Regions from separate parts of the Homo sapiens genome. Here region 2 is linked to region 1. Evidence: fine-mapped expression QTL. A gene starts in region 1. The other region holds a variant in brackets. All regions are shown on one strand. Distances are from middle to middle.

Region 1 (8,924 bases):
ACATATTTATTTAGCAGATACACAAATGGCAAGAAACTAGATGATGTAGACAACTTATTATTGTAGATAAACACTTCACATATATTATCTCACTTAATCCTCACTAACCACTCCGTGAGATGGATGCTGCTACTATCCTCATTTTACAGAGGAGGCATAGTACGGTTAATTTGCCCCTGGTCATAAGGGGGACAAGTGGCAGACATGTGTGTTCAACTCCAAGCAGGCTGGATTCGCTATGCCACTGCTCAGATGACCTTCATCTCGAGTTCAGTTACTTTCTAAAGGAGGAAACAGAGTCAATCGTGTGAGGGGAGGTGAGGAGGGGACTGTCACGTTCTTCACCTAATTGGCAACTGGCATAGGCTTAGCTTTGCATACCTGTCTGGAATTCAAATCTCAAATCATACACATCAGCCACGAAAGCTCAGGCAATTATAAACTGTACCTTAGTTTGCTCACCTAAAAGTGGGAGTAATAAGGACCTATGACATATTGCACAGCTTATCTATTTAGTACACTGTGATGCTCCTTTGAGAAGATAATGCAAATATTTACTAAATCATCTTAGGAGCTAAATTCTACAGTTTTGATAGTAAGTGCCCTGATTTTTTTTTACAGAAACTTTGACCTTTATTAATTAGACGGTTTATAAATCTATACTATGAAATGAAGCACTGTAGGTTTATTACCTGGGTTTTGGAGATGAGGAAACTAACAAGTAGAGACTCACAACAAGAAACCTGTTGATATTCGGGGTCAGGAACCAAGTCATAGCTAATGCAAGCCATTCTTGGTCAATGAGACTCTGCCCCTTAACTGGGCCCTTGCAGGGAAATGTTTCAATAGCAAAGCTGAGGATCCTAACATCTGAGGAAAGTTCTAAATGACCTGCTAGTCTGGTACGATCACATGAATAACTGAATTGGGTCAGATTCCTGTGTTTCTATTCAAGTGCTGCAGGCCTGCCTTGGGGCCTGTGTACTGCCTGCGCCCAGAATGTCCTCATGACTAACTCTCACACCTCCTTCGAGGTTTTGTCTCCCATATCAGCCTCTCAGCAAGGCCCACCCTGACCAATCTATTTAAAATTCTCATACTTTCTCCTCCCAACCCTCCGGACCCTGATCTAGTTTTTCTCTTTTCTGTATCACTAACCACCTCCCAACATACTGTGTATCACATACCTCAATTGTTTATTGTCTGGCCCCCTATCCTAGAATATAAACTTCCTAAAGAGTGATATTTTCATTTTGTTAACCAAAAAATATCAAGTGCTCATAACTTTGCCTGGCATAAACTAGGGACTCAATATATATTATTACATAAATAAATTCAAAATGCAGAGGTACTTTTAAAAATGCACCAAATAATCAAATAAGAATGATTCAACAGTTGTGTTTCTCAGACAAAAAGCCATACGATTTCATAGCACTGGGATGCAGGGTTGTAGCGGCATTTCATGAGCCTGGGACATGACCTTCAGTGCTAAATTTAGTGCTCCTGGTGTTTCTAAGATTCCCAGTTACCAGTTTAACTTCATCTATCTAGGATGTTCATACCAAGAATGTTTCTACAAACTCAATTATCTACTCAAAATAAGAAGCAAGCAAACCTGGACCTGCTTTTCCCATCTCCATGTAACAGACTCAGACCTATGAATGAATTGATAACAAAATTGATGGAAAAGCACTTCACAGTTGCAGGGCTACGGGATTTCTCGGCAATTTAAATTTAAGTGGGGATGGGGGAGAGTTTTAGCTAGGATATTCAGTGTATACACTGAGACAGGTACTCCAGTACTGAACCAGCAGTGAAATGCAAGAAAGAAAACAGGAACACCGGTACAGCACTCTTCCAGGAGAGAAAAGAGCTAAAAAAGTGGGTGGTGAAAATCACACTTCCCTTGGTTCTAAAGCCCCCAAATCCTTGTTCATTATGGGGAGAGGAAAACAGTTAAAAACAAAAGTTAAGCATACACATATAAGATAACAGAGAGTTATTCTCAACTTAATGCACTTAATTAATCCAAACTAAACATAATACTTTTATAATGAAAAACACAGGCCTTGAAAAATCTGCCAAGCAAGAAACACACCATATTCCCATAAATATTCATTTTATCGCTGTTTAAGGGTTTTTACTAGTGGCTAAAGGTAATAACCCAGATAGGCCCCCAAAATGGAATGCTCACCTAAGCATATCTCTAATACTCACGGTTGCTAAATAACAAGACTGTTGAACAAATTAAAAGCAAAATAACACACCTCTTATTCTTTTCATGAATCTTTTTAATGTAACCACTCACCAACAGACATGAAATCAGTAAGTCAATCATTAACGGTCTCCAAATACTTATAGATTGAATCAAAAACGATAAATACCACATAACAATACCTGTCTAGAACTTTGACTAAATGCTTTATATTTTCACCCATGTCTTTTCATCAGAAGTGTATTTATATGACACTATCTACTAATTGGGATATTTTTATTCTTCTTAAGATCAGTTCTTCTTTCTGCATATAGGGCTGCCTTTGATAGTAAAGGGCCTCTCCCCAGCAGAAGTGTATAATAGTTTGAGCCTCTTCATCCTGGGAATTGCAAGTGTTTGTTCATTTTAACATTTGCTTTTCATAAAGTTTGCTGGTTCAAACTGTTTTCAACTGTGTTAGCCCTGCAACACAGTTCACCTAGGTCACTGCTATTGCTGTAAACTTAATTTTTCCACATTTTCACTATTAAAAGGACAACACTAGCCTTCTGGGAATGAGGTAGCATTACTTCAAAGCTGAGTTTTAGAAAACGTATCAAACTCTTAACCTTCTTTAAAAATGTGTGCAAAATATTAAGACAATTTCTACACTTAAAAAAAAAACCTCATGATTCACCAAGTTTTAAACCATCTCAAACTAAATCCTCAAGAAGGATAACTGTCTTTAACACATTTTAATAAATATAATTTATACTGTCTTTTAACCAGCTTGTCTAAGTAGGTAGGCAATGGGGTAAAATTATTACTCAGCTTATATAAATTATAGTTTATTCTGAAATAACTGTTAGCGAGAATGGATGGGATATGCAATGACAGCCTTCTGTAAGTCAAGAGAAATTATTTATTTATATTACTTATATCATACATATTAATGTATAGCATTATCTATATTTATTTTTTACTTATTATTGGGAGTAAGGGGAAGAACTTGAACTAGTAACATTTCTACCAGAACTTCACAGTACCGGTGTTTTCGCTTTATTTTAAACTAGCCATCATGAAAAATCTGATTTAATACTTTCAAGCACTTTCAGTTATGACTATTCAATCATGATATGAATCAGCAAATTGGTTGCTCCATTAAACTGCTTTTAAGACTACCAAAACTTGCCCAGCTCTTCTGTCATACCTTTAGCAGAGGAAATGGAAGAAGCTATTACAAGGACGCCTGAAAACTTGAAAAGTTTCAAAACCTGGACAATTACTCAACAGCATTTTCCTCTGAAAGACATTTTGTAGACGTTTCCCATGATTATCTCCTATTCCGGATGGCCCATCAAATCACATTCTAAACAGGCATTCAACACTTATTAAGCAGCCACTGTGTGCAGAGACAGCACTATACTAAGCAAAGGAGCATAGGGTTCTGCCTCATTTTATTCCTGCATAAATACACAGCAGTCGTGATTTATTCTCTCAACTTTGTAGAAACGTGAGCTGCATCCACATGGCTGAATCCATGGCATTCATTTGGACTTCCTGGGGGCAATTTACAGGTTCTCTGGATTAGACAGCCCCATTGGGACATCGCTCGGACCCTTCACCTTCTAGCCCACGCAGGACAACTCGCTGGCGTCGGTCACACCTTCCGCAGGTGGTTGGACCGCCTAAGCCAGATGCACCCGGCCCACCTCCCTTAGCAGGGGTTCCGAATAGAAGTGTGAAAATGTGTGCAATGACTTCTGCAAATCAGAGGACTTGTTGAAAGGTCCAGGGGTCCAGGCGTGAAGGGAAAGCAGCCACCCTGCGGGGCGCCCCCTCCCCGGCGTCTCCCGGGCCCGGGGCGCTGCGCAGGCCGCCGCCGATCCCAGGGCGCAGCCAGCGCACCTCGGGCCTAGCACCATTAGAAAGGCAAATCGCAGAGCCGGGGTGCATTTAAATGCCCGGCCATGGGCCCTGGGGGTGTCTCTCCAGCGGGCGCCGCCGCAGGGGCCTCCAGGGCGCGTCGACCCCGGGGCGCTGGGCGCGGCCCGCGGGCGCACCCAAGACCTCAGCCCGCAGCGCCCGGGCGTCCGCGCCAGGCCGGGGCAGGGGAGGGCACCCAGAGCCCCCGGGCCCGCGTCCCCGGCCCCGCCCGGGCCCCTCGGCCGCCTCCCAGGGAGAGGGCAAGCTCCCCGGCCCCCGCCCGCGGCCGCCGGCCCCGGCCCCCTCCCGACGCACCACACCTAGCAACCGGCGCTGACAGGACGCAGTGGCGGCGGCGGCGGCGGGAGGAGGAAGCGGAATGGCTGCCGCGGTGGAGCCACCCCCGCCCCCCCGCTCCACCTCCCCGCGGCTGCAGCCGCCGCCGAGCCCTGACAGCTCGAGCCGGGGCGGAAGCGCCCGGCGGCGTGCAGCGCCCGCCCCCCGCTGCCCTCAGCGCCTCGGGCTACTCCGACCACCCGGGCCAACTAACTCCGCGACCCTGCCCAGCGCCCAGCTCCCGCCGCCCGCCGCGCCCTCCGCCCCGCGCCCCGCGCGCCGGCACTCGGCCCCGCCGCCGCAACCCCGCCGCCCCGCCGCGGCGCTCCCCGCTCCCACCACTTCGCAGCCCGCGTGCACGCCCCTGAGTCCCCCAGCCGCCCGCCCGCCCGCCCGCGGCACCTCGGGGCGCCCGCCCCCTCCCCCACCCGAGCCCGCTCCCCGCCCCCCGGCACCTCGCGCCCCCGCATCCCGCCACCCCCACCTCGGGGCTCGCACGCGCCCTCCCCGCCCTGCCGCCTCCCTCCCCGCCGGCCACCCCTGGCCATTCCGGGGCTCCCCGCCCGGGCAGGAGTTTCCGCGCGCCTGGCACCCCCGCCCACCCCCGGGCCATTTACCGATGTGGTTGTCCTCGATGTGCTCGATGAGGTCGGCCAGGGTGGGGAAGTGGAGTCCGCAGCCCCCGAATCGGCAGGTATTGGAGAAGAAGGAGGCGGCGGCGATGCCTGTCATGGTGCTACATCGAGAGCCCCCCTGGTGTCGGCTCTGCGAGCGCCGGGCGGGCGAGGGAGGGAGGGAGGCCGGGTGGGGTGAGGAGAGGAGGGGCTGGGGGAGGGGGAGAGAGGCGGGGTGAGGGGAGCGGCGAGGACGGGACGGAGGGAGAGGGGGCGAGAGAGATGGAAGGAGAGCGAGGAGCCACCGGGAGGCAGAGGGGAGGCGGCGGCTGCGGCGGCGGCGTCGGGAGCGGCGGGGGGAGGGCGGGGGCGGGGGCGGGGGGGGAAGGCCGCCGCAGCTGGGAGGAGGGACCAGGGCGCGCGGCTACAGCTGTGCGGCCCCAACCTCAGCGCGCGGACCCAGGCCTCACCTGCGAGCCCTGCCACCAACTTTATCTCGCTAGGCCTGCCCTTTACGGCTTGCCATCCGTGCCATCTGTTTGGAGCCTCCTTGGTTATGTATATGACGTTCTTAATACACCCACATCGATTAATTACACCTACCTCCCTGCGAGGAGAACTCAGGGAGTTACCCTGGTCCCTCTCAGGGACATTTTTTTGTACTCAGCCACCTGTCTAGGTGTGACACATTCACAGGGGACCCAGGAAAGGTAATTGTGTGCACCTTCTTCTTTAAACCTTCTTTAGAAAAAGTACACATTCTCCGGAGGTTTGTACTAACTAATTGATTTTAATGAAGCTTTCCCTCTAGGCCAGAAAAAAATCTTAGCTTTATTTAAATTTCAAAATAGAGTGCTTGGTTGTCAAGTGCATTTGCCTGTGTTTTACATATGTGCCACGTTTTTTATACTCCCTGCTCCTTCTAGGAAAACAAAAACTAAAATAATTTCATCACCCGAAATTACAGCACCCTACTGCACCCACTCCACCATCTCAGGTCTGGTAATTAACCCATCCTCGTTTCAGCCACTGCAGAAAGGACAGTGCATTGGTTAAGGCTAGAAGGAGCGGAAACAACGGCAAGGGACATAGTGACTCTTCATTTAAAAAGGAAGCGATTTCATCCTGTGAGCATTTAAAGCATAATGTTGACCAGGTAACCACTTAAGGTGAATTTAGTAGCTTCCCTGAAAACCAGCATTTTGCTGAGAATCAATTACTTTCTTGTCCCCACCCCCTCCTCCAGTTGCAGTCATATTTCTTCTGTAAAGTGTGTATTTTCCAGTAGCACTTTTCCAGGTGTCTAAGAAATATTACACATTATCAGCAGTTTATGACCCAACAGTACATTTTTTTTATTAATATTAATATATGCATACTGAATTTAGCATTTTTCCTTAGGGCAAATTTCACTTACCCTCTGGTGCAGATGCATGGAGAAATAGTATTCCTCCCTCCATAAACTCTATGCATCTCTGTCTAGTGTTATTTCTAATAATGGGATTGTTTGCTTTTCATGTAAGTGCTTAGAGTAAAGGCACATGTAATATGTCTGTTGCTACAGGAAGTTTTATGATCTGACCATCACCGGTGGCATTTTCTCTTCTCATCTCTTCTGTCTTGCAGCTCACAAGGTGACAAACTTGCTGAGATGAGATTCGGCTTGGGTGGGGCTGGGGCAGCTGTGTCTTGAAGTTCAGTTTGGTGCCAAGAATGGTTTCATGGGCCCAATGAGGGTGGGGGCAGGGCCCTGGTGGGCCTGATAATGAGCCAGGGACCGAGTTGGCAGGGGACTGAGGCCAAGGCCAGACAAGGGTCTAAAGAGCAGGAGTTAGAATTCTAGATCTTGAATTAGAATTTTGGCAGCTGTGCAGTACATTCAGCTGCCCAATCTGGGAAGGCCTTCAGCTGAGAGCAGGCAGAATATCTGGCAGGCACACACCACACCAAATGACATGGAAATGCAATACAAAACTTCAGCCAAAAATGATGCCAAAACAGCCACCCTTAGAGATGAATGTTAGGCACCCCCACTATGCAGCATCTGGGAGCCCCAAAAGCTTTGAAGAAGTAGCAGTTCTGTCCTCCAGAGGAAAAATTGTCTACGTGGAGTTATTAACTCCCAAGAGTGTGGAGAGGTGGTTCAGGCAAGAGAGTTCCGAGATGGGAAGTGCCAGAAATGTGCAGGTGAAAGATGAAGGAAGTAAGGGGCCTGGGTTTCACTAATGCATGGCTTTCTACTACCTCCTGTCAGTTTCACTATTCCTAAAATAAAACCTTGCTAGACCAAATTGAAAAAAATAGATTTTTTAAAAAATGAAGTGAGCTAAAATAACTTCCAAAGTAAATCAAGATATTGGTTTTTAAGACAAAATTATTTTCTCTACCTTGGATAATTATTACTGTTTTGTAAGGAATCAGTTCATTTTGCCTGAAAATAATCCACCCTACTACTTCTTCATATGTGACTGAAGCTTTGTTTATGTGATGTTCTGCTCATACTACTTTTTAAAAATCTGTACACTCTAGGCATTTCCGGTCTTTATATAAGATACATGATTGTGATCTCTTAGACCTGGAAGATACTCTGGCTGTCAGAACCACTGGTTTTGGAGATGTGGTAAACTGAGGCCGGGGCATCAAGCAAGTTCTCCCAGGTGCACACAGACAGTTTTTTTCTCTGTACTCATGGTGCATTTAGAAGGCATTGATAGACAATAGAAGGACAAATTATATATAGATAGTAACCACAGGCAAAGTTTTTTAAAAATTGCTAATAGCATGCTTACCTTTCTGTACTTATATTTTTAAAATGTTTGTTTCCAGGATATCCCTTTAGATAAAGTCAACATCTAAGCTACAAAAATATATAAAACAAACAATTCAACTTATTACATCCGAGAGAGAAGGTGATGACTGATATACCTCTGTACTGGCAAAAAACATCTGTCTGATTTGGAAAGTAAAAATATTTGAAAGGAGAGGGAAAGTGAGGGAACTGAGAAGTCAGAATGATATGACAGTGGCTGTAGACAAGAAGCATTCTCTGGGTTTAAGAGCCTTTTCTTGAAAACCATCTGTCTCTCCCCAGAGCCCAGTGCCTCCCAATGTATAGGCACAAAGTATGGATGTGCAGTGGCCCCATAATATGGTACTTAGCATTACAAATGGTTTGAGATCGCATAACAGTCTCCCCAAATCCAGCATGTCCAGTGCCCTCGAGATGGGGCAGCTGCCGGAAGGTGTGAATCCACTGGTCTAATGGAGCCAACTGAAGACACTGAGGATCCTGCTTCATACAGCTGTCTGTCCTCCACATACAGGAATTGGTTTATTTTGGCATACACTGATAATCAAAACCGTGCACTTCCTGTGTCCTGTGTGGACATCTGTTAATGATGCAAGAGGATCTATATGAACATTAGATTCTATCTTGAATCTAACTCTATACTGCCTTCAACTGTAGCTTTCTCTGGCTTTTTAGATTGTTTTCCAGGTCCCTCTTGAGGTGCTTTTCAGGTTTACTAGATATTTCTTCTATTGTCACCACTGTGTCGAAGGAGCAGATCATGAACCTTGGTCTTCTTCAGCTCATGCAAGTCTGTGGACGCTTACAATGTCTGATGTTCCCTGGCTCTTGAATGCTAAGGCTGCCACTTCCACCAACAGCAACCTTGGGCTCAAAGGGATGCCTTCTTTTTAGGCTCCATCTTCTTCTAAGGAGGATGATTTCTATTCCAGGTTTTATTGTTTAATATTTATGTAACCAAGTTTTCTGTATTTATTTTATTCCAGCTCAGAAATGAATCAGCTTTATCTGCTCTCTGGTGATTAATTCTCATTTTGTCCCTCAG
Region 2 (8,924 bases), 37 kb after region 1:
GGAGGCTGAGGTGGGAGGATGGCTTGAGCCTGGGAGACAAAGGTTGCAGTGAGCTGAGATTGCACCACTGCACTCCAGCCTGGGCAACAGAGAGCCAGACCCTGTCTCAATAATAATAATAATAATAATAATATGTTATTTTTCAGACTCAAAAAAAGCAGAAGCAAATTGTGCTTTTGCTGCACCAGCCCTGAAATCTGTCTTTCTTTTTTTCTAAGATCTCTTCTGTTAGTGGAAAATGGTTTCTAGAAATCTGTAAGCTATGTAGGCTTACTGCTATTGGCCTATTGCTGCTTCCAGGATCTCTCAGTGGACAGAACAAGGACAGAACATTGAAACATCTAGATTCATTTTTATATCTATCTAATTATATATATATATATAAGTTTATAGCAGTTCCTCCACTTCAATTCAAACACAATCGTTTCACCTTTTCATATTTAAAATTCTCTTATCAGGCAGCAAAGGAACCCGGCTGCATAATCCTCAATATACAGTTATCCCTTCATATCCATGGGGAGATTGGTTTTAGGCCGTCCCAAGGATACCACAATCTGCAGATGCTAAAGTCCCTGATCTAAAATGGCATAGTATTTGCATATAACCTAATCATATCCTCCTGAATACTTAAAAAATTATTTTGGAGACACGGTCTCTCTCTGTTGCTCAGGCTGGATTGCAGTGGTGCAAGCATGCCTCACTGCCATCTCAACCTCTGGAACTCAAGCAGTCCTCCCACTTCAGCCTGCTGAGTAGCTAGGACTACAGGCATGTGCCACCATACACAGTTAATTGTCTAAATTTTTTATAGAGATGGCATCTCACTATGTTGCCCAGGCTGGTCTCAAACTCCTGGCCTCAAGCAATCCTCCCCTCTCAGCCTCCCAAAGTGCTGGGATTACAGACATGAGCCATCATGACCAGCCTGTCTGAATACTTTAAATCATCTCAAGATTACTCATAATACTAAATACAATGTAAATGCTATGTAAATACTTGTTTTACTATATTATTTGGGGAATAATGACAAGGAAAAAAGTCTGCACATGTTCAGTGCAGATGTTGTTTAAAAAATATTTTTGATGTACAGTTGGTTGAATTCACAGATGTGGAATCTATAGCTAGGGAGGGCCGACTGTATTTATTTGTTCAGTCCCCCTGTATGCAACAAATCCTTCAGCCTGCTGGGCCACCACCCACTCAACTACTTTCTAACTTTCCTTCTTCTTGGGCATCTCCAGTGATTTTTAAAATGAGTGATTAAGTAGAAAGGAAAGAAAAAAGTAGTGAGAAAAGGAGGAGGAAAAGAAGAGAGAATAAAAATAAAGAAGGAAGGATGGATATTAATTGTTAATATTGATCATGGAAAAGCATGTGAGTAGAAAATTCATGAATTAGGGAAAGAAAATACAAACTTAGGGATCTGCCTGGTTGAGAAGGTAGTTACTAGGTGAGACTAGGTTGTGCTGCAGTAATAAACTGAATTTTAGGTGATAAAGACCCTAAAATCTTAGTGGTTTAAAACAATGCATGTCATGAGTGGCTCTGCAAGGTAAGTGCTCTCTGTGGGGTGCTCAGCGCTCCAGTGTGCTTTGACCTCATCATCCCTCTGTCTTAAGATGTTACCATTGCCATCCAAGCCTTCAGGGATCACTGAGGTGGGGGAAGAGAACATGTGACCAGCTCTTACATACTTCCTCATGGAAGAGACACACATCAATTCTGCTCACTATTTATTGGCTAAAGAGTCAGGTGACCACTCATAATTTTAAAGGGGCAAGGAAGAATAGTCTTCCCACTGCCCATAGTAGCAGAACAGAAAATGCTGGTAAGCACAGGGATAGTTACCACAAAAGCTGTTTTCTCCCAACTGTTAGGAAAAGCTAGCAATATTGAGACTATTCAGAGTCATCTTTTTTTTTTTGTAAAAAAATTTTATCATGTCCCCTTTGCCATAAATATTCTTGAAACCCAAGATAATTAAGATAAAGGTCACATTATAGATACCAAGAAAATCATCTGAAAATTATTTACTTTGACTTTACATGGAACTGAAATCTGAATTTAGAGATGGTTCACATCGTTTCCACTCTGAAACACTTTTTAGTAAAGATTGAAGTCACTGATTCTAGAATAGGGCTGCACATTAGAATCACTTGTGGAGATTTATAAAAATTGCTGCCTGAATGAACCTTGTTCTTGGAGATTCAGATGGAATTGGCCTGGGTGGGGTCTAGACAGCAGTAGTTTTTAAAACTCTCCAGGTGAATCTAATGCAAAAGTCAGGCTTGGAATCTCTGCTTCTAGCCCTGACACCATTGTACTCCCACTGGTCCTTCAGCCTGCATGTCACTTCCTCAAGGAAACCTCACCAACTCCTAAGTCTAGTGATGTGCTCCTATGTCTCTCTATGCTTTCTGTCTTATTCTCTTTGGAGATGGAGTCTCGCTCTGTAGCCCATGCTGGAGTGCAGGAGCACGATCTCAGCTTACTGCAACCTTCGCCTCCCAGGTTCAAGCAATTCTCCTGCCTCAGCCTCCCAAGTAGCTGGGACTACAGGCGTATGACACCATGCCCTGCTAATTTTTTTGTATTTTAGTAGAGACAGGGTTTTACCACGTTGCCCAGGCTGGTCTCCTGAGCTCAGGCAATCCACCTGGCTTGACCTCCCAAAGTGCTAGGATTACAGGTGTGAGCCACCGCATCCGGACTTCTGTTTTATTCTTTATCACACTGTGCTCTGTTTGCCTGGATGCTTTGCTATATTTAGCTGTAAGCTCTATAATGGTAGGGACATGTGGTCTTCATTTTTTGAATGCACAGTCCCTGACATAGATGCCTACCTAACACATAGTAAATGCTCAATTAATGTGCATTGAATAATTAATACATAATATTGGATTTAGAACTTTCTTTATATTGCTTCCTGTTCCAGTGTAAAGCTTGGAAGGACAGACATAGGGTTAGGAAATTAGTTTATTTGGATCCTTTATGAATAACTGATAGATATGGACCTCTTTTAAAATGATCCCGGACTATGTACACAATGAACATTTGTAAGATGGAGTAAAAGCAGAAAGTAGGCTAGGTGCAGTGGCTCATGCCTGTAATCCCAGCATTTTGGGAGGCTGAGGAAGGCAGATGGCTTGAACTTAGGAGTTCCAGACCAGCCTGAGAAACATGGCAAAACCCTGTCTCTACAAAAAATATTTACAAAAATTAGCCAGCGTGGTGGCACACTTATGGTCCCAGCTACTCAGGGGACTGAGACGAGAAGATCACTTGAGCCCAGGAGGTTGAGGCTGCAGTGAACTGAGATTGTGCCAACGCACTCCAGCCTGGGTGACAGAGTGAGATCCTGTCTCAAAAACAACAAAACCAAAAACAAACAAACAAAACCCACAAAAATGGCAAAATAAACAACAACAAGAAGCAAGTAAACATTTGATGCTTTTCAAAAATGATTGTTTGAACTCATTTACAGGTTAAATACACTGGGAAATTTTCTTAAGATAATCAGAAATGGCTAATCTATTTGCCTAAGCATGTTGTAGCTGTATGCCTTTAGATAATAATTATAGTGCCTGCAAGGTAAAGGATAAACTTCTCTGTTATTCAAAGACCTTTGCAATCTCTTCCCAGCCTGCCTTTCTAACTTCTCCCAGCTGAGTGAAGGTGGAAAGAGAGTACATTTTGAATTCAGAAGCCTCAGAGTCAAATTGCTGTTCCACAGTATTCTATCTGAGAATCTTAGGCCTGTTTCTTAATTTCTCTGGGCCCCAATTTCTCCATCTGTAAAACAGGGAAAAAGGAGCTACCTCTCACAATTGTTTTGAAGGTTAAGATATTGCATCTGATGGTGCTTTGTAAAGTGCAAAGCCCACTGCAAACAATTCTTAATATTAGTTGCCAAACAGAGTTACTGATAGGTGTCACACTTTAGATGAGTACCTGAAGTTTCTCAACCTGGCGCCTTCCCCGGCTGAGAGTACTTTTTCTTGTCATTCTATCTATCCAGTTTTTATGCTCAGTAGTTATTAGTCTCCTTCCCTCCCTTCTTGAATTGTTATTTCTCAATACGTCTGGGCAAT[G/A]GAACTCAAGCCGTGATGCAGTGATGGGAGGAAGATGCAGCAATGGATTGTCTTTTCTGTGGCACTGCAAGTGGAGAACAGGGTAGGAAAGAAACAGTAATGCCTGCAAGCATCTGCTCACTAATCTCAAAAGTGCTATTTACTTTTAATTATTTATTATAATACTTCAAAGCATATTTTGTAAAATTAATAAAGCCTGAGTAATTTGAAACCTCTCCATTTAGCTTGCCAATACATCTTTGCTGAGAAATGCAGTTGAGTGGAATTCTGAGAGAACGATTTGATCTATGGGCCAGGGACAGAAGGATTACTGAGGATTTTTATATGTTCTTAGAATGCCTTTCTATTTCAGGAGAAAAATAAAACAAACATAAAGCAAACTCCACTTCATAGAAGCAAGCCAAGTTATACCAGAAAATCTCTTATTACTTAGCGAAAAAGAGAATTTCTACTCTAAATCACACTCCTTATGTTTACATATATTAAATATAGAATGAAAAGAATTTAGAAAGCAAAAACAATGTTTATAAGTGAACTTTTAAAATCAGACGCAGACATGTAAATGAAAATGTTACCATTGTATGAGGACCTATGTTAATTTTTGCATAACGTTTGTTTCCAGGGGTTCCTGTTGAGATTAAAGTAAATGCATTTACCAGCATACATGTCATGGAAGACTGACTCTGCACCATGCTCTGTGACAAAAGGCTTCAAGATTAAACCGGTTTGGTAAATCCTCTTCTTGGAGATGCACAATGCATGTCTGCCTATTAAATCTCTGAGTGCTCCAGCAGTAGAGATCCTGTTGAAATTTAACTTTGTTGTTCTTAAATTTCCTTGACTGTGGAGCCTTTTAAAACAATTATTTCACCTATTAACAGCTGAAAACATGCTGTCCTTTGGAGTACTTCTTGGGAAGCTCTGAATGACGTCAATTAAATACATTCACTTGCCCCGCTCATCCACAGTGTCCTTTCTGGAATGGCCTTGCAATAACAGTTAGGTAAAATTTTACATAAAGCATAATGTGCTTTAAAACTAGTCATAAAAGGATTTTTCTTGGTAAGAGCTTTATTGGGATATAATTCATATAACATACAATTCACCCATTCAAAGTGTACAATTGCATGGTTTTTCGTATCTTCACAGAGTTGTGCAAGCATCCCCATGGTAAATCTTAGAACATTCTCATCGCCTCAAAAAAGAAAATTCATTCGTTTTAGCTATGATCCCCTATTCCTCTATCCCTCCACTCCACCCCTAAGGAGCAACTAATCCATCTTCTGTCTTTATAGATTTGCCTATTCTAGATACTTTATGTAAATGGAATCATACAGTATGTGGCCCTTTGTGCCTGGTTTCTTTCACTCAGCGTAGTGTTTTCAAGGCTTTCATGTTATAGCATCTATTAGTACTTTACTCCTTTAAAGTTTTAAAGATGGACAGAAGCCCAGGAAGGTAAGAAAGTAAAGAAGGGCAGGGTGGTGAGTTGGTGCCCTGGGGATCCTTGAGCTTGACTAGGATAGGAAATGCCCTGCCTGGGAGAGAAATGCCATATTCTTTCCTTTCTTCCATAACTTCTTATGGTTTGGGCTCCAAATCTTTTTACACACACAGAGTTGATCTCCTTTGCAAAATCTGCTTCCTGAAAATTGCTGGTGGATCAACACTGATGCTTTTCTTGGATATGAGGGCCACAAGGCTTGCACCTGTTTCTCAAAATGAGTATCTGAAGTTTGAGACGCTTGTATTTGTTTCCTGCTTATTTTACAGACTTGAAGAGGGAATTTCCAAGGGGATTGCATGGCGCTTCAGTTAAACCTTTGAAACCCCATCTCTACTGAAAATACAAAAAATTAGCCAGGCATGGTGGCGCATGCCTGTAGTCCCAGCTACTCGGGAGGCTGAGGCAGGAGAATGGCGTGAACCCGGCAGGCAGAGCTTGCAGTGAGCCGAGATTGCACCACTGCACTCCAGCCTGGACGACAGAGCGAGACTCTGTGTCAAAAAAAAAAAAAAAAGAAAAGAAAAAGGAAAAAATGCTGCTTCTCTCCTGAGGCAGCTACTAGAATCATTGTAGGGATATTGCATTTTGTAAAAAAGCTCATAAAAGTTTTCAGCAGTTAGCTCATAAGAGCTCTGGAGGTGAGAAGAGTTCTTTTTCCTAACAGAGTAGGTGAGTCAGGGTCTGGGTACAGAATTTATCACCCCGCCAATGCTCTTCCCAAGAGGAGAAAAAAATGAAAAAAAAAAAAAAAAAAAGAATGTGAATGTTCCCAAGCGCTCGGGATTAAGGTTGATTTAATCTGGTTGCTTCTATTTTGCCATGTTGTGACTTTCACGTGCATCCCATTGCCTGATGCTTATAAATGATGGTTGCGCATAATGTCCCATCTTTTGGGTGCAGAGTTCAAGGACCCTGAAACAGCTGTAGGGGGTGTTTTGGACCCTGGTCTAGCAATGGCCTCAGAAGATTCTGATAGAGGTTTGATTGGTCACTTTACAAGGAACACTGGTCTATACTTAGTCTCTGTTACATGCAGGGAAATATTGATTCTGAGGCATTGAAGTCACAGAACTTAAGATGCTTTTATCCACTAATTCGGCCAACGTTCCTTGAATGCTGCTGTTTCTACACAATAGGGATATAGCATTAAACAAGACAGTCCCTGCCCTCGTGTAGTTTATAATCTGGCTCAGATTCCTCTAAATCAGAATTGTCTAATGTTTCTTGTGGATGCTGTGAAATGATCAAGATGTCTCAAATTAACTCGTTTCTGACCTGAGCTCCCTAGACAGACCCCGCATGAGCAGGAAGAAGCATTCTGTGCTATGTGTCAGCCACTCCTTTGGATGTGTCACATGCCTTTCTTCTTTCATCTTCCTGACAAGCCTACAGGTAGGGTCTTGTTACAACTCTCTGGTGGAAGAAGTTGAGGCTCAGCAAGGTTTATTAAGAGACAGAACCAAGATTGACTCTAAGACTGTCTACCTATTCTCTTTCAATGAATCAATGCTACTCCAACAAACTGAAACACTTTGATATTGACCCCAAATTCAAGGGATGCCCAAAGGAGCACTAACAGGTGACAACAAAAAGTGTGTTCAATTCAACAGTAATAACAGAAGGCATTTTTGTGCCTTGAATCCTGTAGCGTGGTGGAAACAGCATAGGCTTTGATAAATCAGTGAGGATCACATTAGTCTCCAATCAATTAAAATTCCAAAAATAGAGGCTTAAGATTTAAAAGTATTTTCCTGTAAAAGGTGGCATGTAATTCCTTGGTCTTCAGGGTCAAAGGCTCTTCCAGCTTTCTGTTTCCTTATCCTCATTGTCCAATATGGCTGCTAGAGCTCCAGATATCACATCCTAGTTCCAGGCAGCAGGAGAAGGGAAAGGCTGAAAAGGGGCATTGCCCCTTCCCTTTGGAAGACTTCTCAAATGTTTTACATAATACTTTAACTTCCATCTCCTTGGTTAGAACTTAGTCACATGGCCAACCTAGCTACAAGGAAGAATGGAAAGTGTGATCTTTTAGCTGGAGAGCAGTGTACCCAAATGTGAATTGAGGTTCTGTTACTAAGAAGAGGAGTCTTGTTACCAGGAGGTAACTAACAGTCTTTGTTGTAATATATTCTATGCTTTTTAATTATATGGTAAAATCTTAGCTACAGCTTATTAACTGAATTGATTGCATTTTTTGCATTCACTCGACAAACACTAATTGATGCCTACTGTAGGTATTGTGTTAAGTGCTAGGGATGCAAAGACCAATAAGACACAATAGGAACTCGATATTATCAAAATAAATATTAAGGGTGATGACTAAGGGATGCAGGGTTTCTTTCAGAATTCTAAAATTGATTGTGGTGATGTATATACAACTCTATAAATATACTACAAATCATTGAATTGTACACTTACATGGTGAATTGGATGATATGTATTCTATCTCAGTAAAACTGTTTTAAAAAGACAATGTGTGCCAGAGTAGAAAGGAGTCTGTATGCCAATGCTTAGGAGATTCGTGTCAGTGCAGAGAATGGATTAGAGCAGTGGTTCTCAAAGTGTGTTCCTGGACCAGCAGCATCCGCCTCACCTGGGAACTTGTTAGAAATGCAGCTCCTCAGGCCTTACTCTTCATCTGCTCAGTCAGGAACACTGGGGGTGCGAGCAACAATCTGTGATTGAACAAGCCTACCAGGGGATTCTAATGCACGCTCAAATTTGAGTTTCTAGATTAGAAAATATGAAAGGACTGAAGGAGAGCATTTAGGATGTTACTTCAGTGAACACCAGTGAAATGACAGTGAACACTGGTGACACTGAACACTGGTGGCTTCAAGTAAGGATAAAGAGACAGATGTGGAATTATTAGCTATAGCTGGAAACACTTCTAAAAGGGTCTTAATATACTTAACTATTAAAGTGATGAATCAGGAGGTAATGGCCAAAACTGATGAAAAAGAACTAGAAGTCTATGTAAGCATATAATGAAGGTAACCTATAAAGGAACTAGAGTGATAGTCATTAACATTTTGGAGGAGGGTAGAAAAAGAATAATGAAAATGAATGACGTTTTTGCCTTTCTGGCAATCTCTTGAATATTCTTGAATCTTTTGAACAATAATCTCTTAAATTGACAAGTAGATTTTTGAAAAAATATATAAACTTATTATGTAAGGAAGAACTAAACCCAGAAATGGTTAGGTTTCCTCTGATGAGGTGGCCAGGGTGGAGCTTTTAATTATCTGCCCTCCTGCACGTTTAAAAAAGTGCAAAAATAGAATGTTTATTTAAAAAACAACCACTTAACTCTCTAGGTAGATTAT

Evidence for each region.
Region 2: its variant is fine-mapped to the expression of JAZF1 in whole blood (INTERVAL, PIP 0.97).

Annotation. Positions count from the first base shown.
Region 1 is chr7:28,175,390-28,184,313 of GRCh38, forward strand. JAZF1 (JAZF zinc finger 1) reads right to left here and starts at 5,406. Exons shown (of 5, transcript NM_175061.4): 1 at 5,074-5,406. The coding sequence starts at 5,188. JAZF1-AS1 (JAZF1 antisense RNA 1) reads left to right here and starts at 5,068. Exons shown (of 4, transcript NR_034097.1): 1 at 5,068-5,150. RefSeq lists enhancers at 3,625-4,126, 4,127-4,626 and a silencer at 4,481-4,600.
Region 2 is chr7:28,212,530-28,221,453 of GRCh38, forward strand. JAZF1-AS1 (JAZF1 antisense RNA 1) reads left to right here. Exons shown (of 4, transcript NR_034097.1): 3 at 4,714-4,820. Among named protein-coding and RNA genes, the nearest start is that of JAZF1, 36 kb to the left of the region's middle. The variant G/A (reference allele first, on the strand shown) is at 4,092.